5 separate regions of the Homo sapiens genome follow, and all the other regions are linked to region 3. Evidence: fine-mapped expression QTL. A gene starts in region 3. Each other region holds a variant in brackets. All regions are shown on one strand. Distances are between the middles of the regions.

Region 1 (5,892 bases), 78 kb before region 3:
GAACTAAGGAAAGATCATCAGGGTTGCAAAACAGCAGGTCATCAACAACAGTGGAGGCGAAATTTTCAGCAGGAGTGGGGCCAGGGTTGCTATATGCAGTAGTGTGGATTATGCACTGCACAAAGTCAGCAATCTACAGGGCACGTGATATGGTTTGGCTGCGTCCCCACCCAAATCTCACCTTGAATTGTAATAATCCCCACATGTCAAGGGTGGGGCCAGGTGGAGATAATTGAATCATGGGGGCGGTTTCCCCTATACTGTTCTCGTGGCAGTGAATAAGTCTCACAAGATCTGATGGTTTTATAAGTGGGAGTTCCCCATGGATGAAGCTGGAAGCCATCATCCTCACCAAACTAACACAGGAACAGAAAACCAAACACTCCATGTTCTTACCCGTAAGTGGGAGCTGAACAATGAGAACACATGGACACAGGGAGGGGAACAACACACACCAGGGCCTGTCAGTGGGGCGAGGGGAGGGAGAGCATCAGGACAAATAGCTAATGCATGCCAGGCTTAATACCTGGGTAATGGGTTGATAGGTACAGCAAACCACCATAGCACACGTTTATCTAGGTAACAAACCTGCACATTCTGCACATGTACCCCAGAACTTAAAGTAAAATAAAACTTAAAAAAAAAAATAAATGGGAGTTCCCCTGCATACGTTCTCTTGCCTGCCGCCATGTAAGATGTTCCTTTGCTCTTCCTTTGTCTTCCACCATGATTGTGAGGCCTCCCCAGCCATGTGGAACTGTGAGTCCATTAAACCTCTTTCCTTTATAAATTACCCAGTCTCAGATATGCCTTTATTATCAGCATGAGAATGGACTAATACAGCATGGCCCCCTTCACAGATTGGAGATTTATGACAATCTTCCAGCCAAAGGGAGAAAAGCATCTTGAAGAATGAGTCCCGTTTCATAACTGGCACAAAGATGCCTTATGGGCTAGCAGCAGCCTTGATGGGGAGAGAAGGCATATGACAAGAAGGTTATAAATGAGTGGCTAGGGAAGAAATGAAAGCTGTGTATTTGCAGTTCCTATATGGGGATATGTATTATTTATCGATTGCTGCATAACAAACTACTTCAAAATTTAGCAGCTTAAAACAACAACACATCTCACCTCACAGTTCTGGGGGTCAGGAATCTAGGAGTGGTTAAACTGAGTGATTCTGGCTCAGGGTTTCTGATAACATGGCAGTCAAGCTGTTGGCTCGGGCTTCCGTCATCTCAAGACTCAACTGGGGCTGAAAAATCCACTTCTGAGCTTACTCTTTGGTAAGTTGGCAGGTGTCAGTCCTCACAGGCTATTGCACTGAGGATCTCAGTTTCTCACCACGCTACGTGGGCCTCTCTGTAAAGTTGCCCACAACATGGCAGCTTGCTTGCCCCAGTGCGAATGATCTGAGAAAGAGAAAGAAGAGGAGGGCAGGGGAGGAGAGGGAAGGGGAAGGAAAGGGAGGGAAGGGGAGGGAAGGGAAAAGGAAAGGAGTGGATACCTGATACAGAAGCCACAGTCTTTTTATAACCTAATCTCAGAAATTGTGTCCATCCCTTTTGCTGTATTCTATTTGTTAGAATACGTGTATAGCTCAAGGGGAGGGCCTTACACAAGGCCATGAACACCAGGAGGTGGAGGGCATTGGGGGCCATCCTACAGGCTGTGTCATCAGGATATATAGGCTCAACCACTCTTTCAAAAGGCAAAATCTTTCTCTCATTCTGGGGGTGAAATCATCAAGATGCAAACAAAATTCAGGAAAAGTGGGAGGTTACTATGAATCCAAATGTCAAAGTCAAGGGTAGAGACTGACATGAGATCAAAGCAAAAACATACAAAAGACTTAGCATCTGAATTAGAGAGCCATGGCTAATGCTCACTGTAAACCAGGACCAGGGTGTGCTCCAGTTAGTGACATGGTGGCTGAATTGAGCCAGATGGCAGGAAAAATGGCCATTGGCTGCCCCTCAGGGAAGGCCTCATCATTGGCTGCACAAGGCTTTAGCTTTGGTGCCCCAAGTGAGTTGCCTGCACCTACCTTATGTGGGTATGAAGAAAGCTCATGAAGGCTGAGAGGTTTCTAACCCAGAGTGAACAGCCTATGCAAAAACATAAAGAGGCATTAAAGGGAAACAAAGAACTTCACAGATGGGCACTGCTTCTGCTTTCTGTGTGGACAGAGCCTATCACGCAGAGATATGGAGGTAAGAACACACCAGATCAGCCAGTAACAGGTAGGACCTGTTCCCAGCACTTCCAACATCCAGGGCCATCCAGGCTTCCCAAAGGGCTGGGTTTGAGGCTGCAAACTATTCCTAGATATGCAAGTCCTATATGGAGAACTGCCCCCTTGGCCCTCCCTGACTCACCCACCATGAGACTCTATGCTTTCTTTTAAATTTCTGGAGCACGGAGAAGCACAGAGATGAAAAGAGTTATTTTCAACTTGGAACATATCATGATATGACAGCCAACTCTTTTGTATTCTTTTAGAGGTTCCTGGAATTTCTGAACTGCTCCTGAGTTGACTCAACTTCATAAATATTTATTGAAGGCCTGTTATCATGATGGGTCAGCTCTAGGCCATGGTTGCTTCAGATGAAGTGAGCCAGAAAGAAGGAGAACTAGGAGGTAGACCAAGCTGGTGAGCATAGTGGCAGGAAGTTGCCATGCCCGAGATTGTAGTTGGGGGCCAGTTCATCAGGGAGGTTACCATGAATCCAAATGTCAAAGTCAAGGGTAGAGACTGACATGAGATCAAAGCAAAAACATGCAAAAGATTTAGCATCTGAATTAGAGAGCCATGGCCAATGCTCATCAGTTCCAAGAGAAAAGGGAAAACACTGCCTAGCCCGGGCCAGAGGGTAGCAGCCTGGAGCCAGCATCCAGTCCTGAGAGTGGGGGTGATGTGTCACTTGTTCAGCATCCTATCCCCAACACCCAGCACACTGATAAATTTAGGTGCTCAAGCCAGGCAAGGAGAACACAGGGGTGTGGTCAGCAGTCATCCATGTAGGCTCCCATAAATCAGGATTTGGGATCCAATTTGGGATGAGCATCAGGAAACAAACAGGGAATGGTTTTCAGACACAGAGACTGGGAAAGGCAACTCAGGATCCAGAACAGATGAGTAGGGACACCTAACAGCCCGAGTTATGAATGCTGATGCCAGGGCATTCCTAGGATTAATAA[T/C]AGAAGTATGATGGCTCACGCCTGTAATCCTCAACTTTGGAAGGCTGAGGTAGGAGGATCACTTGAGCCCAGGAGTCTGAGACCATCCTGGGCAACATAGCAAGACCCCTTCTCTACAAAAAATTTTTAAAAATTAGCTGGGCATGTTGGCATGTACCTGTAGTCCCAACCACTCAAGAGGCTGAGGTGGGAGGATCACTTGAGCCCACGAGTTTGAGGCTGCAGTGAGCTATGATTGTACCACTGCACTCCAGCATAGGCAACACAGCAAGACCCTGTCTCTAAAAAGATTTTAAAATAGGAAATAAATAATAAATTCCAGGATGAATCATTTTAAGCAGCCTTTCTGCTTCTGCTAGACTGAGGATCAAAGCCATGTCTGTCTTGCTTATTGGGTGTCCCCTGGCCTAGCACAGGGCCTGGTATGAAATGGGTGCTCAGTAAATGTGTGTGGAAAGAGCAACTGCTCCCAGAGAACAGTGGGAATCTGCAGGGGATGGAGCACAGGCTTAGGACTCAGAAGTCTTCAAGGCCAATGCTGAGGTAAAGATTGTTTTTTTTCTTCCAGGTTATAGGAAATCAAGGTTGGGGGGTGCCAGATTACAGATTTCAAAGAGTGACCAATATGATGCCAATGTATTCCACGTTCCTCACTCTGTCACCCTCCTGGGCCTCCTTCAGAGTAAAGCATAGGATAGAAATGACAACAGCCATTCACTTTTCTCAGGACCTAATCCCCAGATCGTGAATATACGTAGGCAGAAACCAAGCTAACAACTTCAACGTGGGACTGTAGAATATTCTCTCTACCCTTAACTAGGCAGGTGGCCTTGAGCAGATCATTTCACCTGTCTCTATCATAGCCCCAAACTATGTCCTCGTCTGTAAAATGAGAGAATTAGACTAGAAAGAAGGCTCTGGGGTTCTCTTTCTTTTCTGACATTCTGTAATTCAATTATTCTGGTTTGTTTTGAAGATAACATGGATTAGGATTGACCCACCATGAAAATATGCTGTGGTTCATCAGCTTCTAATGAGAACTGGAGTGGCCCTAAAAGAAATGCCATATACACACTCTCTCTCTCCGTTTCCATGGAGCTTGGTTCTCCTAGAAGCCTGTGTCTGTGGAGGAAGGTGAAGCATATTTCCTGTAGGCAGTTTCTCCTGTTTCCTAAGCCCTCTGGGGAAGAGGCAGCATGATATGGCTGAAAGCTCATTGGACTTGAAAATGGGGAGACCTGGATGCTCGTCCCAAACCAGGCATGTGAGCTTGGCAGTCCACCTGTCCTCTCTGGGTCTCCATTTGTTCGTATGTAATGGACAGAATACCTGCCCTGGCACCCTCCTAGACTGCTGTAAGCAAAAGGCTTCTGTAGAACATTAAGTGCTAAACCTATGTGTAATACTGCTGGGGAATCCATCAGAATGGCTGATTGGACATGAGAGAATGTGTGGGGCAAATGGCCCATACTTCAGAGGCACAAAAGACTTTTTTTTTTTTTGAGTTGGAGTTTCACTTTTGTTGCCCAGGCTGGAGTGCAATGGTGCATCTCAGCTCACTGCAACCTCCGCCTCCCGGGTTCAAGTGATTTTCCTGCCTCAGCCTCCCGAGTAGCTGGGATTACAGGCACACACCACCACGCCTGGCTAATTTTGTAGTTTAGTAGAGACAGGGTTTCACCATGTTGGTCAGGCTGGTCTCAACTCCTGACCTCAAGTGATCCACCCACCTCGGCTTCCCAAAGTGCTGGGATTACAGGCCAGCCACTGGGCCTGGCCAGGACTTCTTAAATATTTATACATTCTAGAAAATTAAGCTTCAAGCCGGCATTCGTGAGTCTGTCTGGTAGGAGGCAACATGACATGGCTGCCTAATTGGCAGAACCAGAGGAGCACGGTTCCAACCCTGCCGCTTACCAGCTGAGTGACTGTGTGCATAGCACTTTACCTCTCTGAGTCTTTGTTTTTTCATCTTTAAGATGGTTATAATATTCTTACCCTGCCTACTTCCCAAATCAGTCACCTTGATTGATCAAACATGATCAAGTGATCAACTAAGTCATGTTTCTAAAATTATGGCCCATTTTAAAGGGGCCATAGAAACTGGTCACATAAAATGGGCACTGATGCTCCTTGCAGTGTTAGGCACTTTGCAGGGGCGCTGAGCAATCAATCCTGCTGAGTCAGTGAGGCATAGCCCAGCCTGCAATGCCAGCTCTCTGAGCACACAGAATAGACAGACACCTACATGGGATGATCTGTGGGCAACTACAAGGCTTCATCTACCCCTAAAACTTTCCCTTCCTTCCCCAGCCTAGAGTTCTTCCCATTAGAATCACTCCTCCAAAGTATCTGTGAGATAGCTCAGAGCACAAAGGTCTCCAGGGTAGAGGCAAGTAGGGACTGGAATCCAACCCAAACTCTGCCCACCAAGGCCCATAACTGCCCAGAGGGAGGGCGCTTTTCTCTCATTCTTATGGGTGGCTTGCCACATGGGCCAGCATATACTTTGCCTGGAGGTTAGAAAACACGTTATCAGGGTTTAAATGAGCAAATGCTACCTGAAATGGAAGGATCACTCTTCTCTTGCCTCCCATTGAAAAATACATGGAGCTGAGCTCTGGGAAAATGAAACCCCAACCAGTGAATTTCACGTGCATGTGTGTGAGAGAGAATCAGAGTGTGTGTGTG
Region 2 (5,892 bases), 300 kb before region 3:
AAGGTCAAAGGAGGCTATTAATAATTACATCTGGACAACAGTTGTAATCTGGGACTGTCTGGACAAAAAGGTGTCTGTTGAATAAGTGAATGAATGAACAAATGAATGAATGAATGATTCTTAGGCTGAGGCTGCTGACACCGAGGCATTCATGGCTTCCTACATCCGTTGGTGCCACTGTCTAATAGAAAATTCACCCGTGTATACCATGTATACCAAGCTGGGATTGAAAGTCCATCTCCGTTCTTAGCTTGCAGACTGGGACTCCACTGCAGAGAGAAACTGGGCTGAGCCGGAAGGGCCCTGCAGGTGCTGCTCAGAGCATCTTCCTCCACTTTCCTGCTGGCTTGGGCACCAGGAACTCGGCTCTGCGCTTTCTGTTCTTTGTAGCATTTAATCCTTACACCAGCCTTGTGAAGTAGATGTTCTTATTACCTTTTACAGGTGAATCAACCCAGGCTTAGAGAAGTGAAGTATTGTGCCCAAGGCGCTAATATCAGAGATACAACCTATACCCAAGTCTGTGGGACACCGAAGTACGTGCCTCTAAGACGTCACCACCTTGCCTTTTATGTGGCCTTCTCTCAAGAAGAGGACTTAGAGGCTTGGGGCGTCCAGTTTCTGGAGGCAGGCAGGGCCTCCTGTGGCCTGATCCATTGGCTGGAGAGGAGTCAGCAGGGGCTGGGGTCATGGCATTGTCCCAGTGGGAATGGAAAGTTTGCCTCCTGGAGGCGCCCCCTCTGCCCCACGTCTGATTGCGGGCAGAGTCTTGGACGGGGCAGTGGCACATTCAGAACCTCTGGCCAGGCTAGGACCATGAGAAGTGGGCTTTTCATAGGTTACAAGCCCTGTGGCCGTGGGAGCAGGCGGGGCAGGGACCCTGGTCAGCCTGATTCACAGGCCAGGATGCTGCCACCTGAGCCTTGTAACTGAGCCCTCGTGGCTCCTGAGGGTGGGTTAAGGAGGAGAAGGTGTTCCGAACCGGAACTCCTAACCAAGGGCTCTATCAGTCCTTCCACCTCCTGCTTCCGGCCCGCCCCACACCTACCCCCTGGAGGGCCGTGGAGTTTCTTTGATGCACGGCCTGGCTGTTTTTCCAGAACGTGGTTCATTTGCAGTCCCAGCCCATCGGGAGAGCGGCCTGAGAGTCTGAGGGCTCCAGCCCAGGGGAGAGGCTTGCTGGGGCCTGGCTGGGCTGAAGTGGTGGAGAGGGGAGAGGCCAGGCCCAGAACCTCTTTTTCCCTCTTGTGTTCCCAGGCCGGTCAGGCTCCTGCTGGGCGATTGATGGAGGTGAGAGGATGTGGGCTAGGGCTGGGTCTGGGCAAGGGCTCTGTGAGGGAGCAGGGTTAGGCACTCTCCCCCGCTCCCCCCACCTGCCTCCCACCTCCACTCTCTGCAGATAGCCCTTGCCCCAAGGCTGCAGCCCAGTTGACATCCCTGAGCCTGGGCCACCAAGCGCAGCTCCCTTGCGCCCTCTAGTGTCTGCCCCTCTCAGGTACAGGGTGCCTTGGGCCAATCTCTGAACCTAGAATTGACCTTCCAAACCGGGCCATTCCTAAGCATGAGGTGGACTCTGTTGACAATGATGCTGGGCAGCAGACGCAAAAAGAGACTGGGCCAGCTGTCTTTTCACTCCACTCAGGTCAGAAGTGCCCCCTCCCCACTCCACTGTGGTCCCCAGAACCATCTCTGGGAACCACCCCATTTGTAAATGAGATAATGCATGTGACGTGCTTAGCAAGGGGCTGGGAGAGTAGGGGACCAGTGACTATGTGGTCAATGAACAGCTATTAGCTCCACTAGGTAGAAGCAATGATCTGTTTGGTCCTGTGCTGGGGGCTCGTTTCCAGGGGGGAGGACAGAGAAGCTCTGTCCAGTGCTGCTGAGGCAGGAATGAGGACTCCATGTTCGGAGTCTGGCACGGAGCAGGAGGGTGATTTGATGGCTCGGTGTGTGTTGGCTGCAAGAGCAAATGCAAAACGTCAGCCTGAGATTAATCAAGACATCCTTCCACTTACCGTTTCGGGTCTTGTTGGGGAGTTTGGAAGGAAAACTGCCTTTCCAGCAAGATGTTTTGACATGATGCCTTTTCCCTGGCATGCGTTGTCTCCTTCTCCCCACCCATCCCCTTCGCCACAGCTTTAGGGATGACCTCTGCCCTGCTGGGTGCCCTTGATGACTAACACAGCAAGTGTGTGGACCGCCACCTGTCCTGGCCTCACCCACCTTCACCCTCCATTTCTTCATGACTGCCCCCGTGGCTTCTAGGGGGAAGGCCCCAGACAGGTTTGCTAAACTACTGACTCCCAGGGCTCCCTGACAGGGCCTGATGCAGGGTGGCCAGCGGTTGTGACCCCTAGACCAGGTGGGTCCCAGCACAGGGACCTGAGCCCCACCCTCAGGGAGCTGGCGGCTACACGGGGAGCGGTCACCTGTACAGATAAATCTAGTGGAAAGCCCCCATGGCCAGAACCAGGGCGGAGGGCCTGGGGCAGGCTCTGGAGTATAGAAGAGGGAAGGCGCCTTTGGAACAGACAGCAGAGAGAAGAGCCTGCAGGATGAGTGCGAAGGATTGCTGTGGACAGAGGTGGGCCAGGGCTCAGCTCGAGGGCTCCCAGGGAAAGGAGCCTGGGGTGGCCTGGGCACCGTGTGTGTGTGTGTGTATGTGTGTGCGCGCGCGTGCATGTGCGTGTGCATAGGTATGATTCAGGGAGACATAAGGGACTTTGGCAAAGTCAGGAGGATGTGGGGGCTAAGCAAACACCACTTTGAAGACTTCTCTTTGGCATGGGGTGTGACAAGCCAGGTCTGGTGCCTTGTTGAGGAAAGGGAGAAAACTCTGAGTTGGTTTTTGTGTTCCTCAAACCAGTTTGCCCACATCCTTGGCATCATCTGTGCCCTGTGAAGGGCCCGCTTGGAGCCATGCATGTCTGGGCCTGAGGGTGGCGGTGCCTACGTGAGGCCCTGCGGTCTCTTCAGGAGCTCCCCGAGAGGGGCACTTGGCCACTGTTGGAGCTGAGAGGGGCCT[G/C]GCCCAGCTCACCCGCCTCTCCTGCTTCTCACCCAGCCCCTGCTGCTGAGAGCTCTGGCAGCCTCCGTGTGCACAGCAGGCCTGGGCTCAGTCACAGGTAGCTCTTCTGTCTGCTCCACGGTGGCTCTCCTCAGGGCCTTGGCTCTCATGTGAGGCTTCCAGCTGCTGCTCACACTCAGAGCTTTGCATGACCAGCAACACACAGGCAGATAAGAGCATTGGGTCTAGGGCGAGAAAATCCTGGGTTCAAGATCAGGCTCTGCCATTTACCAGCTATGTGGCCTCAGGCAGGTTGAACTCTTTGAGCCGCAGTTATCTCATCTGTAAATTGGGGATAATAACACTTAATGGTACTTATCTCATGGGGTTGTCATGAGGATCAAATGAGATGATGTGTGTGTAAACACCTTACAGAGGGCTCCACTAATGGAAGGCATTATTATTGCTGTTTCCATACCACACGACACTCACCCAAGAATGGAAGTTCATGTTCTGACTGTCAATGACGTGTCCAGCATTCCTCCTGTGCTCATTTCATAACTATTCGTTGAGCCTCCTTGGTGCCAGGCACTGTTCTAGACTCTTGGGCCATAAAAATCAATAAAACACAAGATCCCTGCCTCCTTACGGCTGACCTTCTAGGGGAGAGACTTTCACATACCCCAATCTACTTAGCACACATTCCAACCTCTCTCTGGCATCTGCAAACTCAAGTCTGCAAGGTGAAGCAACATCCTAAGCTGCTAGGAACTCTCTCCATAAGTACTCATCCAGATGGCCTGGTGATACGGACAGGAGACAGGGAAATACTGGGTAGAAGAGGGTGGCTCCTGGCAAAGGCCCCACCCTCAAGCCTGAAGACCCACGGCCCTAAATGAGGACAGGCATTCCTGTTTTTGAGCGGAAAAAGTTGCCTTTTGGCCTGCCACACCCCCTATCCTGCACCCATATAAACCCTGAACCCCAGGCTTCAGAAACAGACGAGCAAGCCAGCAGACCAGCAGACGGACAGTGGAACGATGCAGTAGAGAAAGAGAGAGGAGGAGGAACATCTGAACATGGAGAGGAGTTTGACTGGGGACGGTCAGAGAGGAGTCCGGCTGCTGGGCTCCTGACTCCAGGGGAAGATCACCTTCCTACTCCATACCCCCCTTCTGGCTCCTCATCCGTCCCACTGAAAGCTACCTCTACCATTCAATAAAACCTCGCATTCATCCTTCAAGCCCATGTGTGACCCAGTTTTTCCGGGATGCTGGATAAGAGCTTGTGATACAGAGAGCTGTCACACTGGCCCTCTGCCCTTGCGAAAAGGCAGAGGGTCCATTGAGCTGGTTAACACATGCTGTCTGCGGACAGCAAAGCTGAAAGAGCTTTGTAACACTGGGGTTGCAGGCACCCACCTTTAGACACTACAGTAGGGCCAGAGCCCAAATGGCTCACCCTGGCCTCTGCACCTTCCCATCTGCATGCTCCACCTCCTGAGAGGGATTTGAGCAGCAGGGGTGACCGAAAAGGCAAGCGGCACATCCTGAGGGGGATCGGGGACCTCTCCTGTTTCACTGCAGAAGTCCTTTCGTGGCAAAACAAGGTCATGTTGAGACAACACTCAGAGCATTGTCGTGAAAAGGGAGCACAATCATTAAGAGTAGTTGCCCATTTTACAGATGAGGAAATTGGGGCCCAGAAAAGTTTAACTGCCTTGCCCTAGGTTATGCTGCTGCTCAGTAACAAAATAACTTAGTCAACAAATATTTGCTGAGCCCCTATTTTGTGCCAGCCACTGCTTTGGGCACTGGGGCACAGTCAGTGCCTTAGTGGAGCTTGCATTCTCTAAAGGGGTGACTTAAAATAAATATGTAAACAGGTGAGCTCATTTCAGACATGATGAGTGCTAGGCGGAAAATCATACAAGATAATGGGAGGGACAGTGACTTAGGAATGGGGTAGTTGGGGAAGGCCTCCGGGGAGGTGACACTGAAGTCAAGGAACCAAGCAGAGGACACTTCCGGTGGAAGTTATCCTAAATGGTGACCCAGATAAGAGACTCAAAGGATTCCCTACAGCTCACTTAAAAGGCAAAGGAGAAAATGTGGCTGTGAGTCCTCCTAGGGAGAGCAGGGGTTTCTGAGCTGTGGCCTGAGGAGCCAGGTGGCCCTCCTTGTAAAACAGAGCTCAGGGCATCTGGGGATCCTTTTGTTTTGTTTTCTAATAGACTTTATTTTTTAGGTTCATAGCAAATTTGAAAACAAAGTATAGAGAGTCCCCATATACCCCTGCCCCTACATGTGTAGTACATTCATTAAATCAAGAACCCACATGGATGCATCATCACCCAAAGTCTATATTTACATTGGGGTTCACTCTTGGTGTTGATGTCCTATGAGTTCTAACCGAAGTGTGATGACTTTATCCACTGTCACAGCATCTTAGAGTAGTTTCACGGCCCTAAAAATCCTCTGTGCTCCGCCTGTTCATCCCTCCCTCCCCACAACCCCTGGCACCCACTGGTCTTTTTGCTGTCTCCGTAGTCTTGCCTTTCCCAGAGTGTCATATAGTTGGAATCATACAGTATGCACCCTGTTCATACTGGCTTCTTCCACTTAATAATATACATTTAAGTTTTCTCCATGTCTTTTCATGGCTTGGCAGCACATTTCTTTTTAGCGTTGAATGAAATTTGCATTTTCTGGATGTAGGGGCTTGATATGGTTTGGCTCTGTGTCCCCACCCAAATCTCATCTTGAATGATACGCCTGTAACTCCCACGTGTTGTGGGAGGGACCCGGTGGGAGATCATTGAATCATGGGGGCGCTTTCTCTCATACTTTCCTTATGGTAGTAAGTCTCATGAGATCTGATTTTTT
Region 3 (5,892 bases):
ACATCAGCAGGCAAGTACTCGGAACCACTCTCCTATCTCCTACCTCTTCTTCTCACGACCTCCAAAACTCTGCTGAGACCGGCCTCCCTCTGCCTCACTTGTGGTGATTTTCTCTCGGATGCTCACTTTCTCTCTGTGCAATCTTTCCTTTGGGTGTCCCTTGTCTTTAAACATGTCTGCGTATACCTGAACTCTAATTGTGGACAGGGTTCAAAGTTCTTTTTCATGGGATTCATGGGCCCCATGAAAATTAGAGGCTAAGTAGGCATCTAAGTAGGAGCATTTACGTGCTCCCAGGCATTCTGTTACACTTAAAGAGGCTCATGGAAGAGATTTGGGCAAGTGGTATAACTCTACAAGCTGCTATATTCAAGTCCTAGTTCCAGCTTAGCCAAAACACCTACTCCGATTGCAACTGATCTTTTTCTTGGTTGCTAGAAAACTGAGAGTCATATGTGTGGCCTACCTCCAGCAAACCAATAGGACCTTACACCATGCATTTTGCATACAAAACTGCTGGCTTAATCTTATCTTTCACACTCACGGTTTTCTTTTGTCCTATTTTTCTCTGTACTTATTTTTAATTTACCCTGATGTACACATTTATGTAAACTACGTTAAATCCTTTCCTCTGGAATAAAGTAGGGTGTAAATAAATTTAACAAAACAACAAAGAGTGATGATGAGCCAGGTCTTCACTCCTGAAGGCCTCAAAACGAACTGGCAGTGATCTGTGAAAACTACAGAGAACTGCCCGTTCATCTCCACAGATTACTGAAGTCTGTGAAAACTACTCCAGCCAGGACCACCATTATAGCCTGCTGCCTGTTGTGTTCACAATCGATGCACAAACTCAACCCTGAAATGGAGAGAAAAATAGGGGAAAAAAGACATTAGGAAATCCTAGCTCTATGTCATCTGGACATTAGAAAGCACTTGGTTGGACAAAGCTTTTTCTCCCCCACAGCACATGCCTGTTTCAGCATCTCAGCCCACATTCACGGAGAGGGAGAATATAGCAATTGTTAAGAATGCAGACTCTAGCACTGCATGCTCTGCTGTTTATTTGTGTTATTTGGGCTAGGTTTTTTAACCGTCTGTGCCTCGGTGAATCCCATCTACAAAGTAGAGATAATAATAGTACCTACCTCACAGGGCAGTTGTAAGGATTAAATGAGGTAACCCGGGTGTAACATTTAAAACAGTGGCAGAGTACATACAGGGATCTGAACAAATGTTAGCTACTATTAGTGATATGTGAGTGGGGGAAGCACACTGCCTTGGACTTGAGGCAATATCAAGTCTGAGTTTCTGGAAAAACACTTGTGGAATAAGTAAGGGCTGGCCACCTCCTAAAACCGGACAAAAGATCTGGCTTGCCTAGATCCTTAGCGTGACTGCTTCTCCTCCTGCCTTTCTAGAGGCAGTATTACGTGATGGAAATACTTGGTGGGTGCTGTGGGCACAAAGATAAGTTAATGTGTTTTTATTCCCTAGGAGCTGAGTCGAGAGTAGGAGAAAAATGCATAAATAATTACCAGGTAGGATGATTAAGCAATATACTGGAGGCAGCAACAGAAACACACCGTGGAAAAAAAATACCCACGGCGTGGATGAAGATATGAGATGTGTGAAAGCGCTAGACACAGGCAGCCACCTGCACCCATGTAAAATTGGATTATTGCTGACTCCTACAAGGCCCACTTTAACGCTTCTTTCAACCAGAATCCCTGCAGAACTAATTTTGTAGAACCGCCGGGGATAAAGACCTTTATTTGCAATGTCGAACTCCAGCAGAGTAACCCCTTTTGCTTTCCACACGCGCAAACCCGGGTCCCAAACGCTGCAGTTCGCGTTTCCCGGCTAACGGAAGAAACACGAGGAACTGTTTGCAGATCTAGGGGATGAAGCCAAAAAACGGAAAGCGAGGCCGAAAGGGCGCAACCACCACGTCTGGAGGAGGCCAGTGAAGTAGAGAAAGGGGAAGGTCAGCCCTGCCCCAGCGCGCTCTGCGTAACCGGGACTTCCTCCGCGCGGCAAAGCCGGGGAACCTCCCTGGCGCCTGCGCCACCGTGGCGAGACTCGGCGCCGTGGACGTGGAGAGAGGGCGACGCACCTGCGCGAAGACGGCAGCGGGAGAAGCCGCTCCAGTGCGGTTGCGCGGCGGCCCAGGCGTCGAGGGGAGCCTCGGCGGGGAGCGCACCGCGCGCCTGCGCGGAGAGCTGCGTGACGCGGCGGCGCGCAAGGGACGTGCGGAGTGAGTGGCGCTGCGGGTGGGGCCGTCGGCGGCGCTGGTGAGCTTTGCGGAGCTGGGCGGTGCCGAGGAGGAGGAGGTGGCGGCCTGGGTCTGACGCGGCCCTGTTCGAGGGGGCCTCTCTTGTTTATTTATTTATTTTCCGTGGGTGCCTCCGAGTGTGCGCGCGCTCTCGCTACCCGGCGGGGAGGGGGTGGGGGGAGGGCCCGGGAAAAGGGGGAGTTGGAGCCGGGGTCGAAACGCCGCGTGACTTGTAGGTGAGAGAACGCCGAGCCGTCGCCGCAGCCTCCGCCGCCGAGAAGCCCTTGTTCCCGCTGCTGGGAAGGAGAGTCTGTGCCGACAAGATGGCGGACGGGGAGCTGAACGTGGACAGCCTCATCACCCGGCTGCTGGAGGGTGAGTGCGCGCCTGGCCGCGGGACAGAGGGAGGTCGGGCACCGCCGCCGACCCCTGCGTCCCCGTCTGCCGCCGGAACGCGAGGGGACCCCTTTCCCGCCCCGAGACGAGTCTCTGGGAGCGCGGCGCGGCGGACGAACCGAGGAGGGGGCGAGGAGGCTCTGGGCGCGGGGGAGCGGCCTCTGGGAGCGCGGTCAGGGGAGATCGGGGGAGAGGGGGCCGTTCCCGCGGACCCTCGGGGGCCAGGCCCGCCGGCCGAAGGCTGTGCGGAGCGGGTCTGCGGGAGACAGCCTTTCGGAAAGGCCGCCGGGCTCCGCGCGCCGTGGTGCTCGCCTCCGGTGACCCGAGGATGGGGAGAGGATGCCTGCCACTGGGCTTTGTGCGTCCGTGGAATCACTGTTCTTCTCTGTTCTCTTTGTGCATTGCCCTTGGCTGCCTCCGATTGTCGTTCCGGGAGTGAATTTTACGTATATATATATAAACCTGTCCTTAACAGGACTGCTTCGTCTGCTCTGCATTTTTACACAATGCTATATAGAATGGATTCTTCTTAAAGAGAGGATAAAATTAGCGGGAATTAATCTACCGTTTGTTACTTGGCCTAAAAAAATTGTAAGACAAGATATTTGATCAGGTTGAAGATGCACCTAAGAAATGTGATGTATGTAGATGGGTTTGCTGAAGGGATTGGCTTTTGCATTTGATTTGAGCAGAGCTTAATTTCTGCACAAACTTAGTGAAAATCTATTTTTAAAGCCTGTCTTGTATTCGAAAGGTATTTGTAGGTCTACGCAGCATTTGAACTTTCCGGGCTCAAGTGTTCTTATTGAATAGTTTTATGTTGGTGGGAAGGCAAGGGGGGAAAACGAAGAGGTGGACTAGCCGGGAGTTAAATGTATTGATTCATTGCAGGATATTATTCAAAGTTAAATGCAGTCTTCTGCCAAACAGTCCCTCTACCCTAAAGTTTTCGTCATCAATAATTGTTTTGTGAGTGTGTAGAAAAGCCTTTAATCCTTTTTAAACAATTTAGAGGCCTCTTTGTTAGCCGCCGTCCAGCGATTGCATATGTACTGTTTGCTTTCAAATTACCTTAAGATAATTGCTAGAGTGAAGCAGTATGTACTTATATTTGGAAAATCATCAAAGAATATTGTAATGGGGGAGGGGTAATTCCTTTTTCTCAAAGTATGTGTCGGTATCTCAAACCCAAGTTCTGTGAGTACCTGTTCTGTAACTAAATACTGTGTATTTGCTCCAGATGTGAAAGCCATCCAGCAGTCTTAAGACTGAATAGGAAGCAAAAGTTTTACCAGGAACTCTTATTTACCTTTTCCTTTACTATCAAGTTATTCCTGGGAGGCCCCCTGGTGCCTGCAGTCAGTGTTCACTACCTAAGACTTTGTTTCAGATGTGAACATCTTGCTGGGTCTTTGAGAAATTTGCTTTGAAAATAATTGTATTTTGTAACTGTTTTATGAGGGAAATACAGTTAATTTAAAAATGTGTATGTCTTGTTTACATTTGGGAAGTAGAGGCCTACTCCTTTTTATTTTTTTTTTATTTTTATTTTTTGAGACGGAGTCTCACTCTGTCGCCCAGGCTGGAGTGCAATGGCACGGTCTCAGCTCACTGCAACCTCCGCCTCCCGGGTTCGAGCGATTCTTCCGCCTCAGCCTCCTGAGTAGCTGGGATTACAGGCACCCCGCCATCATGCCCGGCTAATTTTTTTTGTATTTTTGTAGAGACGGAGGTTTCACCATCTTGGCCTGGCTGGTCTTGAACTCCTGACCTCGTGATCCACCCGCTTCAGCCTCCCAAAGGGCTGGGATTACAGGCGTGAGCCATCGCGCCCGGCATATTTTTATATATTTTAAACTTTGCTTGTAAATTTAAATATTTTAAAAATATGTTTGTATCTCAATTTATTTATATTTTATTTCATTTTCCATATATTTTGTAGGCATAAAACAGATTTATGTTTTAAAATGTTTGTATCCTTTTAAATTAGACGCACCTTTATATGATTACAGGTACTTAAACTTCACGAGTGGGTTGTGCAAGGTTACTAGAAAAGACACTGGGGGAAAAATAAGTGATTCCATTTGTTTTTGTGAATTCAAATTAAATATTTGGTTTGTACAATCTGTTTTCCTTTTTTGGGGGGGCGGGGGGGGGGCGGGTAAGAATTGTAGTCCAGATACGTTTCTCTCTTAATTTAGCAAGCGTTAACAAGTTGACCTCCTCCTTGCCAGGCACCAGCAATCCTAAGATAAGACACAGTCTCTTCACTCAAGGAGCTCCCAGTCTAAACAAGTGTCTTTCAGGCTTTTTCAGCCTCCTCTCTGTCCTATGTTCAGCACACATTCTATCAGTACTTCTTCATCCTACAGAAGCATATTTAGTTTGACAGTGCCCCCAAGGGATTCTTAAATATTCTAGGTTTTTCAGCTCCTTCCCAGATCCAGACCTGTTGAAAGACTTGTCCAGAGCAGACTTGAATTTTCTAGTAAATAATTATTTTTAATCTTCAAAGAAAATTTTGTCCACCTGGATTTTCAGTGATATTAGATGCTAGTTAGTGATATTTTGTAAAGCTGCCTAGCAAGAATAACTATGGTTAGTGTTTTTAGTGTCAAATGAACGTGTAAGTAAAAATTTGGCAAGAATTTCTCTGCATTAGGGGAAAACATTCAGCAGGACCTGATCTCATTTTAAAATGCTGATTGTAGCCCCACAACATATTCCTGATTGTTTTTTCTTTTTTACTGTATTAAATCGCAGATCAGCTATACACACTTCTGGTGACTACATTTTATGAGTTGCTTTTTGTTTTTCTTTTTTAGGTGGGCGTATTATTGATAAGTTTTTTTTGTTTTTTGTTTTTTTGAGACGGAGTTTTGCGCTTGTCACCCAGGCTGGAGTGCGGTGGGGTGATGTTGGCTCACTGCAACCTCTGCCCCTGCAGGTCCAAGCGATTATTCTGCCTCAGCTTCCCAAGTAGCTGGGACTACAGCATGCCACCACGCCCCGGCTAATTTTGTATTTTTAGTAGTTTCACCATGTTGGCCTGGCTGGTCTCGAACTTTCCATCCTCAAGTGATCCACCCGCCTCGGCCTCCCAAAGTGCTGGGATTACAGGCATGTGCCACCGCGCCTGACCTTGATATGATATTTTCAAAGAGTCCTTTAGGTCATTTTAATACAAACATGCCATTTAATGTAAAACAGAAATATTGATT
Region 4 (5,892 bases), 280 kb before region 3:
TGAAGCAAGATGACAGATCACTTGAGCCCAGGAGGTCAAGACTGCAGTGAGCCATGATCGTGCCACTGCACTCCAGCCTGGGTGACAGAGCAAGACCCTGTCTCAAAAAAAAAAAAAGAAAGAAAGAAAGAAAGAAAATACATAGATACAGAAAGGTGAGGCATATAGAGGGCAAACCTCCCAGCAAGTCAGGACCAAAGCTGAGGTGACATCAGGCTCCTGCCCTCAGCCCCTGAGCTCTTTCTTCTACAGTAGGGCTGGGAAAGAAACATGTGAACCTGGGGTGGGAGCAGCGGGCACTCAGAAGGTGTGGGGTAGTAGGGGACCCAAAGGGTCTTATGCACACTGAGAGGAGTGTGAATATGCCTACATGTGCCATGTGCCATAGCACACGTTCTTTGGAGAAGGCACAAGAGATTCACCAAGTCCCACAGGGATGTAGGGAGCTGTGTAATAATGTGAAACCCTCCTTGGAAATTAAGCCATTCATCAATTCACTCAGCCATTTTGCTAATTTATGAAATGCAGACTTTGGGCCATACCCCGCACCTCTCCTTTGGGGGAGGCAAAGGAGCAGAAGCCAGGCTGGCTGCCTTTTTGGAGCTTTCAGCCCTGGGTAGGGAGAAGAATCAGGCCCACATCTAATCAGGAACCAAAGCAGGACCAATCGAGTGGCAGGTGAAGGGCTCAGGCAGCAAGGGCTTGGGGGTTCAGACACCAGGGTGGTTAGAAAGAGCTTCATGGAGGCAAAGGGCAAGGAGAGGATAGAGTCAGAAGGTGGAGGTCTGGGGCCTGGCCAACAGGCAGAACAGACTATCAGATGTAGTTTGGGATGTCAGGAGAAGGAGCCTTCATTTCACTCCTTCCTTGTACCAATGGGAGGAGTTTAAATTCTAGGTCTTCTTAAATTTTTTAAATTTTAAACATTTTTTGAGACAGGGTCTTTCTCTGTCACCCAGGCGGGAGTGCAGTGGCAGGATCATGGCTCACTACCTCCCAGGCTCAAGGGATCCTTCCACTTCAGCCTCCTGAGTAGATGGGACCACAGGCACACAGTCCAACTATTTTTTTTTTGTAGAGATGGGGTCTCGCCATATTGCCCAGGCTAGTCTTGGACTCCTGTTCTCAAGCAATTCTCCTGCCTCGGCCTCCCAAAATATTGGGATTCTAAGTATGAGCCACCTCTCCTGGCCTCTAGGTCTTAATCTACATTCTAATTCATGGCTTTATTCACTTCAACACATTTTTATTGAGCAGCTACTCAGTGCTGCGCTGCTAGGTGCTGGCAACTGGGGCTATAGAAAGGCAAAGTTCTCAAGGACTCCTGCATCTATACAAAGACAGACCTATGATCCACAAAAGACTGAGGATCAGGGCTATTCTGGGGGCACAGGGTGCCAGTGGGCCTGGCCAGAGGAGGGACACCAAGGAAGTTAGGGGAAATGGCAGGGTGGTTTTCCAGGGGCACGGATTGCATTTGAAGTAAGAGTTATCCAGGCGGGGGAGGAGGGAGGGAAGGGGGTGGTCTCTGCTGAGAAATTACCGTATGCAAAGCCTCATAAATGATGAGTGCTGGGTGCATTTAGTCTAACTGGAGTATGAGGCATAAGGGCATGGTTGGGTAGAGGGCAGGAAAGGGGGCTGGGAGATGAACCCCAGAAATGTCCTTTCCATTTGTCTGGGGGCTCCGGGAGGCTGCTGGACTGCTGATTAACTAATTCCCCAATAAGCCTTCAAGTGAGGCCCAGTCCAGCTGGACAAGAGCTCCCCTTGTCACTGTGTGTGGTGACACCTCTGATTTGCCTGGTCATTTAGTTCTTCTCTTAGGAAGAGGGCTGGATAAGGAGAGACTCTGCTCACCGCCTTGAGTGGGTTCTCTTTGCTTTGAGTTGTGTGGACTTCTGTGAGTAGACACCTACTGTCCTGGGGGAAGGACAGGCATGATGGGACGGTTTGGACCCCGTTCTCACACGTTCCTTTGCAGGTGGAGCTGGAAGGCTGCTGGGAAGGAGGTGTCAGCTGTGCAGTGGCCCTGAGCAGCCTCAGGAACCTGCCTCCTGCTTGCTGGGGACCATGATTTCTCACATCTCTAAGAGATGAAGGCAGATCCTCTGAGGTCAGCTGGTGGGAGAGAACCCTGGGGCCTTAGGAAGGAAACTCTCTGAGCCTGGGAGATGCTGATCCAGTGCCCCTGGCCTAGCCAATCAGGGCCACTCTGGGTGTGCTGGAAAGAGAGGCTTCTCTTCTCTCCCCATCCTTGGAGGGATTTTGGCTGGATACTGGCCAGCAGGCATTGCCTTAGTCATAGTGATGGCAGGGAACTGGGACAGCCCTGGCTGTGTGATTTCCACAGCCACCCCCACAGGGCCTCA[A/G]TTCTTCAGTTTTCTATCCCAAGGGGACTAGTTGGAAGATCACTGACTGCTTAAACTGAGTAAGTCCCTGGGGGAAGGTGGATTTATGGAAGAGCAAATTCTTGAAAAGGGAGAGCGTGGGCTAAAGCCATGTATTTATTTACTTATTTATTCATTCAATGTTTTGTTTTTTCTTTACTTGTTTAAAAAAAAACACTTCATCTCTTTGAAAAAATAGAAATAATACAGAAATCAACAAAGCCAGAAAAATGTTCCCCCTTGCGGGAAGGGTGAGCTACACACCCTGCCCACAAATAGAATGGGAAATGTATAATTTCCTGAAAAATGGAGCTAAAGCAGGAAAATCGAAGAAGAAGAAGAGGAAGAAGAAGAAGGAGGAGGAGGAGGAGAAGAAAGAGGAGGAGGAGGGAGAAGGGGAAGTGGGATGAAGAGGAGGGGGAAGGGGAGGAGGGGGAGAAAGAGGAGGAGGAAGGGGAGGAGGAGAGGGAGGAGGGGGAGGGGGAGGAAGAGGGGGAGAAGAAAGAGGAAGAGAGCAGGAGAGGAAGAGGAGGAGGAGGAGGAGGAAGTGGGAGGATATCCTTTCAAAGTTTTTGTTCTGTGCATACAAAAATATGAACACCTTAGGCCTCTTCCCATGCCAATAGTGTAACTCCACCTGGCCTTTGGCACCATTCATTCTGTTTGCACAGCACGAGAAGAAGGTCTGTGAGGAGCAGCCTGGCTGGTGGGCAGGTTCTGTCAGTTGCACGAGCACAGCTTCTTCTTTGGCTGTTATTGGGGGTCATCTCTGCTCAGCCAGGCCTTTCCCTGTCCAAGGTCACTCTGCTGCAGGCACAGGAGGAACCAGAAAAAGGCCAAAGTGGTCTAACACACAGGGGTGAGGTGTGAGGTGAGGTGCTGGGCTGGCCTCAGGGTCGGAAGGCAGGTGCTGGCAGAGAGGCGTTTGTTGGCTTTGGGCACTTCCAGCCACAGGAAGTGTTTGTTCTTTTCAGGACAGGGGAATCCTTATTTCCATTCAACAAAAACATTTTGTATAAGACCAAAAGGGGTGCAAAGAAGAGTTCTAATTGAGAGGAGTTTGCCAGCTCTAAAGAACGTCCAATTTGGGCGCTGTCAGAGAGACTCAGAATGTTCTGAAGCTCCACAGTTGGTGAGAGGGGACCAGAAACACACCCCAATGACAGGCACTCCTGAGGACAGACCAGGAGCAGGTGCTGTGCTGAGCACTCCATATACCTGATTCATTCCATTCTCACCTCTGAGCTAGGGATCGTCCCCTCCTCTCATGAACTGGGAAAGTTTATTACTCATTGAACAGACTCAGAAGGATGTGAAGTGACTTGCCCAGGTCCACATGGTTGGAAAGTGGCCAAGCAGGAATTAAGGGCCAAGGTCTCTGACTCCAAAGTGCACCCTTATGTGCATTTTGCTCTGAGACAGGTGGGGTTCGAGGTGAATCTGGAGGGCAGGAAGGGACTTATCAGGTGAAGGCAGGAGGAAGGCCTTCCAGGCTGAAGGTGCAGCTGGAACGAAGACACAGAGGCAGCGTGGCCCTAGAACTATGTGGCGGGCTCTGAGGGAATCTTTCAGGTTAAGGCTAGAGGGAGGGCTTGGGCTCAGGATGGAGGGCCCTGAGGGTCTGGGAGAGGGGCATGTGACCCTTCCAGAAGGCCACAGGCATCATGGGTGAAGGGAAGAGGCCCAAGCTGACAGCACTGAGGAGAAGCCCGGTGATGAGGGGAGGAAGGGAAGAAGCCAATGAAGAGTGCAGGAGGAGGAGCCTGCTGGGATATGGGCGGGAGCCAGGGCGGGGGAGGATCTGCCTCCCTCATGTGGCCACCACAGTGTTCTCAGGGATGAACTGCCTAGAAAGGCTTGTCCCAGGCTGAAGGTCCAGCTGGCAGAGCCCAGGGAGAAGCCCAAGGGCACCCATCATGCCAGCGAAGAGAGCAAGAGGCCAGCTGTGAGGGTGACAGGAAGAGGGAGAAAGGAGTTTGTGAACGGTTCAGGTAGGAGATGACCCTTTATCGATTTGGTTGTGGGGATGGAGAAGGGTGAGGTGTGATAAAAGCTGCAGTGCAATGCTTGGATCCTTCCCACAGCCCCCGCCCTGGCCAGGATGTGCTGTGTGTCTGTGTATCCAGGCATCCTAGTTAGGGCTGAAGGGACCCTCCTCGGGGAACATGTTCCTACAGGATGACATCTGTCCAATGTGGTTTTGGACCTGTGGTGCTGGCTGGTCCTGGGCCCAGGTCTGTGGGCCTGGATGGAATGAAGCAGCCACACCTGTGTCACCCCATCTCTGGGAAGCCCCACCCCACCTGGTCAGACATGCCAGGCCAACCCCATACCCATCTTGTCATACCTGAGCTCCATGCCGCTGCCCCAGCTCCTCCAGCAAGGGCACATCACCCTTTCAAGGCCTCCTCCAATCTCCCCTCCCCAGGCAGCTGCCCCCAGAGTCCCACTTGCACTTGGTGCCTCTGTGTACATTTCCATGCACTTTCCTGTTATGTTTCTAGACTTTATTATTTTCTGAGTACGTTCATCTTATCTCTCCAGAGATGATGAGATCCTTGAGGGCAGGCATCACATCTTGTCTCTTTTTTGTCTTCCACATAACACCTAAAATGGGTTTGGCTCACTGAAGGCCCAACACTCACAGAATGTTGAATGAATAGGAATTTCCTTCCACCCACACATGGGCCCTGTGGCTTTGGGGGTGTGACCCCAAAACATGCCCATGGGATGTGGTGAGATATAAGTGAAGACAGGGGCCCAGGGAGGATATAAGTGAAGACAGGGGCAGGGACGTCTCCTCCATGATGGTGCTCTGGAATGATGCTCAGCAGGGGAGGGACCTTGGTGATGATCTCTTCCTCTTTACTGATGGACAAATAAAAGTCCCAGTGAGAGGTGACAGCGTGCTGGCAGCCCTGGCAGCCCTCAGCTCATTCTTGGTGCCTCCTTGGCCTTGGTGCCCACTCTGGCCACGCTTGAGGAGCCCTTCAGCCTGCCGCTGCACTGTGAGAGCCCCTTCCTGGGATGGCCGAGGCCGGAGCTGGCTCCCTCAGCCTGCAGGGAGGTGTGGAGGGAGAGGCATGGGCGGGAACCCGGGCTGCACGGCGCTTGTGGGCCAGCTAGAATTCTGGGTGGGCGTGGGCTTGGCGGGCCCCGCTGGCCCCGGGCAGTGAGGGGCTTAGCACCTGGGCCAGCAGCTGCTGTGCTCAATTTCTCTCCGGGCCTTAGCTTCCTCCCTGCAGGGCAGGGCTCGGGACATGCAGCCCGCCATGCCTGAGCCTCGCCACTCCCCCACCATGGGCTCCTGCGTGGCCTGAGCCTCCCCATCGAGCACCGCCCCTTGCTCCATGGCACCCAGTCCCATTGACCGCCCAAGGGCTGAGGAGTGTGGGCACATGGCGCGGGACTGGCAGGCAGCTCCACCTGCGGCCCCAGTGCAGGATCCACTGGGTGAAGCCAGCTGGGCTCCTGAGTCTGGTGGGGACTTGGAGAATCTTTA
Region 5 (5,892 bases), 70 kb after region 3:
TATATATATATATATATATATATATATATATATATATATATATATATATATTTTATCCTGAGGCAGGAGGATTGCTTGAGCCAGGGAGATCAAGGCTGCAGTGAGCTGTGGTACCACCACTGCACTCCAGCCTGGGTGACAGAGCCAGACCCTGTCTCAAAAACGAACAAAAACCAAAGAACCACAAACAGAAAATCAGTATAGACTTAATACATTTTGATCAGTTATTACCTTTTATCAGGCTGTGGAGAAAAAATATTCTGAGATTTACTTTACTAAGGTAGTCTGCATTTTAGTATTTTGTAAGTCAGAGAAAACAAATCTCAGTAATTTGTAGGGTAAAATTAGTTTAACATGTTGTTTAGGAATCAGTGTTTCATAAAAGAATGTCTGACTTACACACTGGGAGCAGCGATGTTTCTATATTCTTTAGATTTTGTTGAATGGTTAAAATTTCAGCTTTGTCGCTCATACCTGTGATCCTAGCGCTTGGGATGCTGAGGCGGGCAGATCACCTGAAGTCAGGAGTTCAAGACCAGCCTGGCCAACATGGAGAAACCCTGTCTCTACTAAAAATACAAAAATTAGCCAGGTGTGGTGGTGCGCACCCATAGTCCCAGCTACTCGGGAGGCTGAGACAGGAGAATTGCTTGATCCCAGAAGGCAGAGGTTGCAGTGAGCCGAGACCGAGCCACTGCACTCCAGCCTGGGCGACAGATCGAGACTCTGTCTCAAAAAAATAATAATAATAAAATAAAATTTCAGCTTTGTATTTTTCAATTTTTTTCTTTTAGAAAAATATTTCTCGTGCTAAGAATTTTCAGCTTTGTAAATGCCATTTTGTACCAAGCAGTCATATTTGAAAATTAAGCGTGACTTTACATCACTACTAGCCAACAGTAAAGGGAATGAGTGGAAGGTTAGCTTGTGATTAAATACAAAGTACTGGGGTGAAGATTTTTATTTAAGCTTAAGATGACAGGGATACACTAGAAGAAGGTTTATAAAATTTTTTAAATTTCATTTTGGAAAATTTAAAACATACACAATTTGAAGTAAATAGAATAGAACAAAGAGCCTCCATATGCATCTCATCTAGCTACAATAGATCAACTGTGGCTGTTCTTGTTTCTTCTAATGCCTCTCACCAAAAACGATTATTTTGAAGCTGATCCCAGACATCCTAACATTTTATCCATAAATATTTCACAATATATCACTAAAAGTTAAGAGCTGTTTTAAAACAATTACAATGTCATAGAACTTTTAAAATTAACAGTAATGCTGTAATATCAAATATACAATTCATGTGGAGTTATGATGTGATTTTTTTTTTTTCTTTTTCTTTTTTTTTTTTTTTTTTTTGAGATGGAGTCTCACTCTGTCATCCAGGCTGGAGTGCAGTGGCGTGATCTCAGCTCACTGCAACCTCCGCCTCCCGGGTTCAAGCAATTCTCCTGCCTCAGCCTCCCAAATGTCTGGGATTACAGGCATGTGCCACCACGCCCGGCTAATTTTTCTGTATTTTTAGTAGAGATGGGGGTTTTACCATATTGGCCAGCCTGGTCTTGAACTCCTGACCTTGTGATCCACCCGCCTCGACCTCCCAAAGTGCTGGGATTACAGGTGTGAGCCACTGCGCCCGTCAGGAAGTTTTAAACTTTATGGTTTTAAGGTGCAGTAAAGTTGTTGTGCAGAAGGGGGCAGTGTTGGAAAAGTAACTACCTGGAGTACTGTCTTAACACGATCTCAAGAGTACTTTACTGGAAGTTACTGTGAAAACTTGGTATCACCTTTGTGGCAAATCCTGTTACAATAGGATGAATAAATGTCTTACGAGAGATAATCTGATACATTATTATAACTTGTTTTTAATTTGAACAGACAGAACCTGGCATATGTGCTAATAATCAGGCTAGAGATGTATCTTTCTAATAATACATTTAAAACACATTCTCCCCATGAAAATACAGCCATGTTATTCTAATTTCTGAAGTCATTTGGAAATCATTTTAAAAAGTTATTTTAAAAAGTGAGTATGGATGTCTGTAACTAAAAGGGTTTAGAAAAATTATATATACACATACATACACACAAATAGAGATAGCAAACATGGCAAATTTGGTGCATCTAAGTGAGGATGCATGGCTGTTCATTTTGCTGTTATTTCAGTTTCTGTATAGGTTTGAAATTTAAATTAGATAAAAGTGGGATTTTAGCTCAAACTATTGGCAATAATAAAATTTAGGAGTCCATTCTAGTTTATAATGATATAATAAATAGTCAAGAATTACTTTTCACTGTTCACATGGTGGATTACAGGAATCCAAAAATTAAGTACACAATTCTATAATAAGTAACACTTTATTGTTTTAGCTTATTCATCAGAAAATTTTAAAGTTAACTATTTTAAAGCAGTTTTATTTATGAAAGCAAAACATTAATATTAATTTTTAACTTTTTTCCTTATAGTATCTTTTGGCTATGACCTTTGTTTATTTCAAGAGGGCTAAATTTACTATAAGTGAGCATACCAGGATAAATTTCTTTATTGCTCTGTAAGTATACTTTCTACTAAGTGATTGTTGTGTTATCTATTATATACATTACACCTTATTTAAAACAGAGGCTATTTAAAACCTTATGTATATCTTTGAATAGGCCTTCCTGTATAAATGCTGTATGTTTTTTACTTTAATAGGATATTTTTATGTTTTTTTCACTTATCATGCTATATGCCTAAGATTTCCTT[T/A]TTTATTTATTTATTTATTTTTGAGAAGGAATCTCGCTGTGTTGCCAGGCTGGAGTGCAGTGGCACAATCCTGACTCACTGCAACCTCTGACTCCCTGGTTCAAGTGATTATCCTGCCTCAGCCTCCCAAGTAGCTGAGATTACAGCCACGTGCCACCACGCTCAGCTAATTTTTGTATTTTTAGTAGAGACGGGGTTTCACCATGTTGGCCAGGATGGTCTTGATCTCCTGACCTCGTGATCTGCCCGCCTCGGCCTTCCAAGGTGCTGGGATTACAGGTGTGAGCCACTGCGCCTGGCCAAGATTTCTTGGAGTATTCCTCTTCAATTTGTATTGCATGTTTTACATTTTTCAGAATGCTTCCATATAAATTATCCCAAATTCTCCTCTTTGTGACTTAGATATTTTTTAAAACCAGAATATTCTCTGAAATTTTCAATTAATATATAGTAAAAATCACCATCATCATTGCCCTTTTACATTGAACAACTTGTGGAAAATGCTCTAAACATAGTCTTTGTGGACCTATATCTATAACATAGTCATTATTCGTATTTGATACCATTGGTATTCACTGGCTCTTTTACTAAACACACTGAGCTGTGACAAAGGAATACAGTTGTTTTCCAGTTCTTCCACTGACTTTAGTTTATATTCATTGTGATCTGTGAAATGGTTTTCCAATCTATAGGTCAGAATACATTTGGAATTTGCATTATTTAAGAATATGTTTCTGGCCAGGCACGGTGGCTCACGCCTGTAATCCCAACACTTTGGGAGGCCGAGGCGGGTGGATCATCTGAGGTCAGGAGTTCGATACCAGCCTGGCCAACATGGTTGAAAGCCTGTCTCTACTAAAAATACACAAGTTAGCTGGGCGTGGTGGTGGGCACCTATAATCCCAGCTACTCGGTAGGCTGAGGCAGGAGAATCGCTTGAACCCGGGAGGTGGAGGTTGCAGTGAGCCGAAATCACACCACTGCACTCCAGCCTGGGAGACAGAGCAAGACTCCGTCTCAGGAAAGAAAAAAAAAAAAAGAGTATATTTCCTTTTCTACCCTATAGCTGGATATAATGCTGTAGTTGGGAATGCATGAATATATATATATATATATATATATATATATATATATATATATAAAATTTTTTTTTTTTTTTGAGATGGAGTCTCACTCTGTCACCCAGGCTGGAGTGCAGTGGCGTGATCTTGGCTCACTGCAACCTCTGCCTCCCGGGTTCAAGCAATTCTCCTGCCTCAGCTTCCCAAGTAGCTGGGATTACAGGCTCCCACCACCACGCCCAACTAATTTTTTGTGTTTTTAGTAGAGATGAGGTTTTACCACGTTGGCCAGGCTGGTCTCGAACTCCTGACCTCAAGTGATCCGCCTGCCTCAGCCTCCCAAAGTGCTAGGATTACAGGCGTGAGCCACCGCGCCCAGCCATATGAATATAATTTTAAGTGTTTACCTAGAGAACACATATAAAAAATATTTAAGTTGAATACCACAATAGCTGTCAGCACTGAAGGTAAAGTTTTTACTCAAAGTGTATTTAATTCAGAATCAAAGAGTTATTAAAGAAATAGGACTAGGCTGGGTACAGTGGCTTACGCCTGTAATCCCAGCACTTTGGGAGGCTGGGGCGGAAGGATTGCTTCAGGCTGGAAGTCCAAGACCAGCCTGGACAACATAGTAAGTCTCTACACAAATAAAAATAAAAAAATTAGCCAGGCATGGTGGCATGTGCCTGTAGTGCCAGCTACTTGGGAGGCTGAGATGAAGAGGATCACTTGAGCCCAGGAGTTCAAGGCTGCAGTGAGCTATGATCACCACTATACTCCAGCCTGGGCAACAGAGCAAGATGCTGTCAGGAGAAAAAAAAAAAAACAAAAAAAAAAAACAGGACTAGAAGAAACTGATTTCTTTTTTCTTTTTCTTTTCTTTCTTTCTTTTTTTTTTTGTGACAGAGTCTCTCTCTGTTGCCCAGGCTGGAGTGCAGTGGCATTATCTCAGCTTGCTGCAACCTCCACCTCCCAGGTTCAAGCAATTCTCCTGCCTCAGCCTCCTGAATAGCTGGAACTACAGGCGCATGCCACCACGCCCGGCTAATTTTTTTTTGTATTTTTAGTAGAGATGGGGTTTCACTGTGTTAGCCAGGATGGTCTTGATCTCCTGACCTCATGATACACCTGCTTCGGCCTCCCAAAGTGCTAGGATTACAGGCGTGAGCCACCGCGCCCAGCCAAAGAAACTGATTTCTACTTGTATTCAGGAGATATATTTTCCAGTGCACAGGGAAAAATGAACTCAAAATTTAGGATGATTGCTAAATATAATAGTATTAGGTAATACTGAGTACTATGTGCAAGGCACCACAAAAAATTTTAATGTAGTATTAACTCATTTAATTTTCCCTATGAAATAAATTTTTTATTATCCCCATTTTACAGATGAGGAAACTGAGAGGAAGATTAAGTACTTTCTAAGAACAAACAAGTTAGTAAGCAGCAAAGCAGGGGCACAAACTCAGGAGTGGTTATCAATGACCAAATTCAGCCATCAACCACTAAGTTAAATTGCTGTTTATATATCTCAGTATTGTATTGTATCTATGTTGATGCAATATTTATTTTGTGTTTTTTTTTTACCTGAGAATTAAAAACAAACCAAAAGAAGCTTTAGTTTAAATCTTACTAGATGCCTGAAATTGAATTCGTTTAACTTGTTTTATAAAGTTATTACCAGTAGAGCACTATTGAGTTTATGCAATACAATTATCTGTAAGGTTGTACTGCATGTTGTATTATGTAAGCTCCATATTAAAAATAACATGAATTATAATTTCCATTTTAAGACTAATCATACTTTTTGTATGGCCTCAATAGTTCTCCTCGTTAAATATTTTCTCAGCCATAGTTCTAAAGCTCAAGTTCTTTTCCTTTCTATACAGTCTTATAATGTTTCCTTTCTATGTATTCTTATAAGACTCTGAACTTCTATTATCATTCTTCCACATTACCTTTCACAATTATTTGTTTCATGCTTACTTGCCTTCTTTACTTAATTGTAGGCTCCTTATGGGCAAGGAACATATAACATTTTATTTCATCTTTCAATTACTAACATATAGGAGGTTCTTA

Evidence for each region. PIP is the estimated chance that this variant, and not a neighbour inherited with it, causes the effect.
Region 1: its variant is fine-mapped to the expression of PPP1CB in whole blood (TOPMed, PIP 0.91).
Region 2: its variant is fine-mapped to the expression of PPP1CB in whole blood (INTERVAL, PIP 0.90).
Region 4: its variant is fine-mapped to the expression of PPP1CB in whole blood (TOPMed, PIP 0.94).
Region 5: its variant is fine-mapped to the expression of PPP1CB in whole blood (TOPMed, PIP above 0.99).

What each region holds. Positions count from the first base shown.
Region 1 is chr2:28,672,027-28,677,918 of GRCh38, forward strand. It overlaps LOC124907746 (a long non-coding RNA gene), which reads right to left and starts at 3,223. Exons shown (of 2, transcript XR_007086257.1): 1 at 1,132-3,223; 2 at 787-964. LOC105374384 (a long non-coding RNA gene) reads right to left here. Exons shown (of 3, transcript XR_939878.3): 3 at 5,013-5,892. The variant T/C (reference allele first, on the strand shown) is at 3,202.
Region 2 is chr2:28,451,191-28,457,082 of GRCh38, forward strand. No RefSeq gene overlaps it. Among named protein-coding and RNA genes, the nearest start is that of PLB1, 42 kb to the right of the region's middle. RefSeq lists enhancers at 540-1,053, 1,054-1,567. The variant G/C (reference allele first, on the strand shown) is at 3,029.
Region 3 is chr2:28,749,527-28,755,418 of GRCh38, forward strand. PPP1CB (protein phosphatase 1 catalytic subunit beta) reads left to right here and starts at 2,304. Exons shown (of 8, transcript NM_002709.3): 1 at 2,304-2,650. The coding sequence starts at 2,599. It overlaps PPP1CB-DT (PPP1CB divergent transcript), which reads right to left and starts at 2,230. Exons shown (of 5, transcript XR_007086259.1): 1 at 2,117-2,230; 2 at 1-859. RefSeq lists enhancers at 1,717-1,926, 2,230-2,874 and silencers at 2,057-2,246, 2,737-2,956, 5,648-5,861.
Region 4 is chr2:28,467,233-28,473,124 of GRCh38, forward strand. No RefSeq gene overlaps it. Among named protein-coding and RNA genes, the nearest start is that of PLB1, 26 kb to the right of the region's middle. The variant A/G (reference allele first, on the strand shown) is at 2,373.
Region 5 is chr2:28,819,853-28,825,744 of GRCh38, forward strand. It overlaps SPDYA (speedy/RINGO cell cycle regulator family member A), which reads left to right. Exons shown (of 8, transcript NM_182756.4): 5 at 2,473-2,558. Among named protein-coding and RNA genes, the nearest start is that of SPDYA, 12 kb to the left of the region's middle. The variant T/A (reference allele first, on the strand shown) is at 2,753.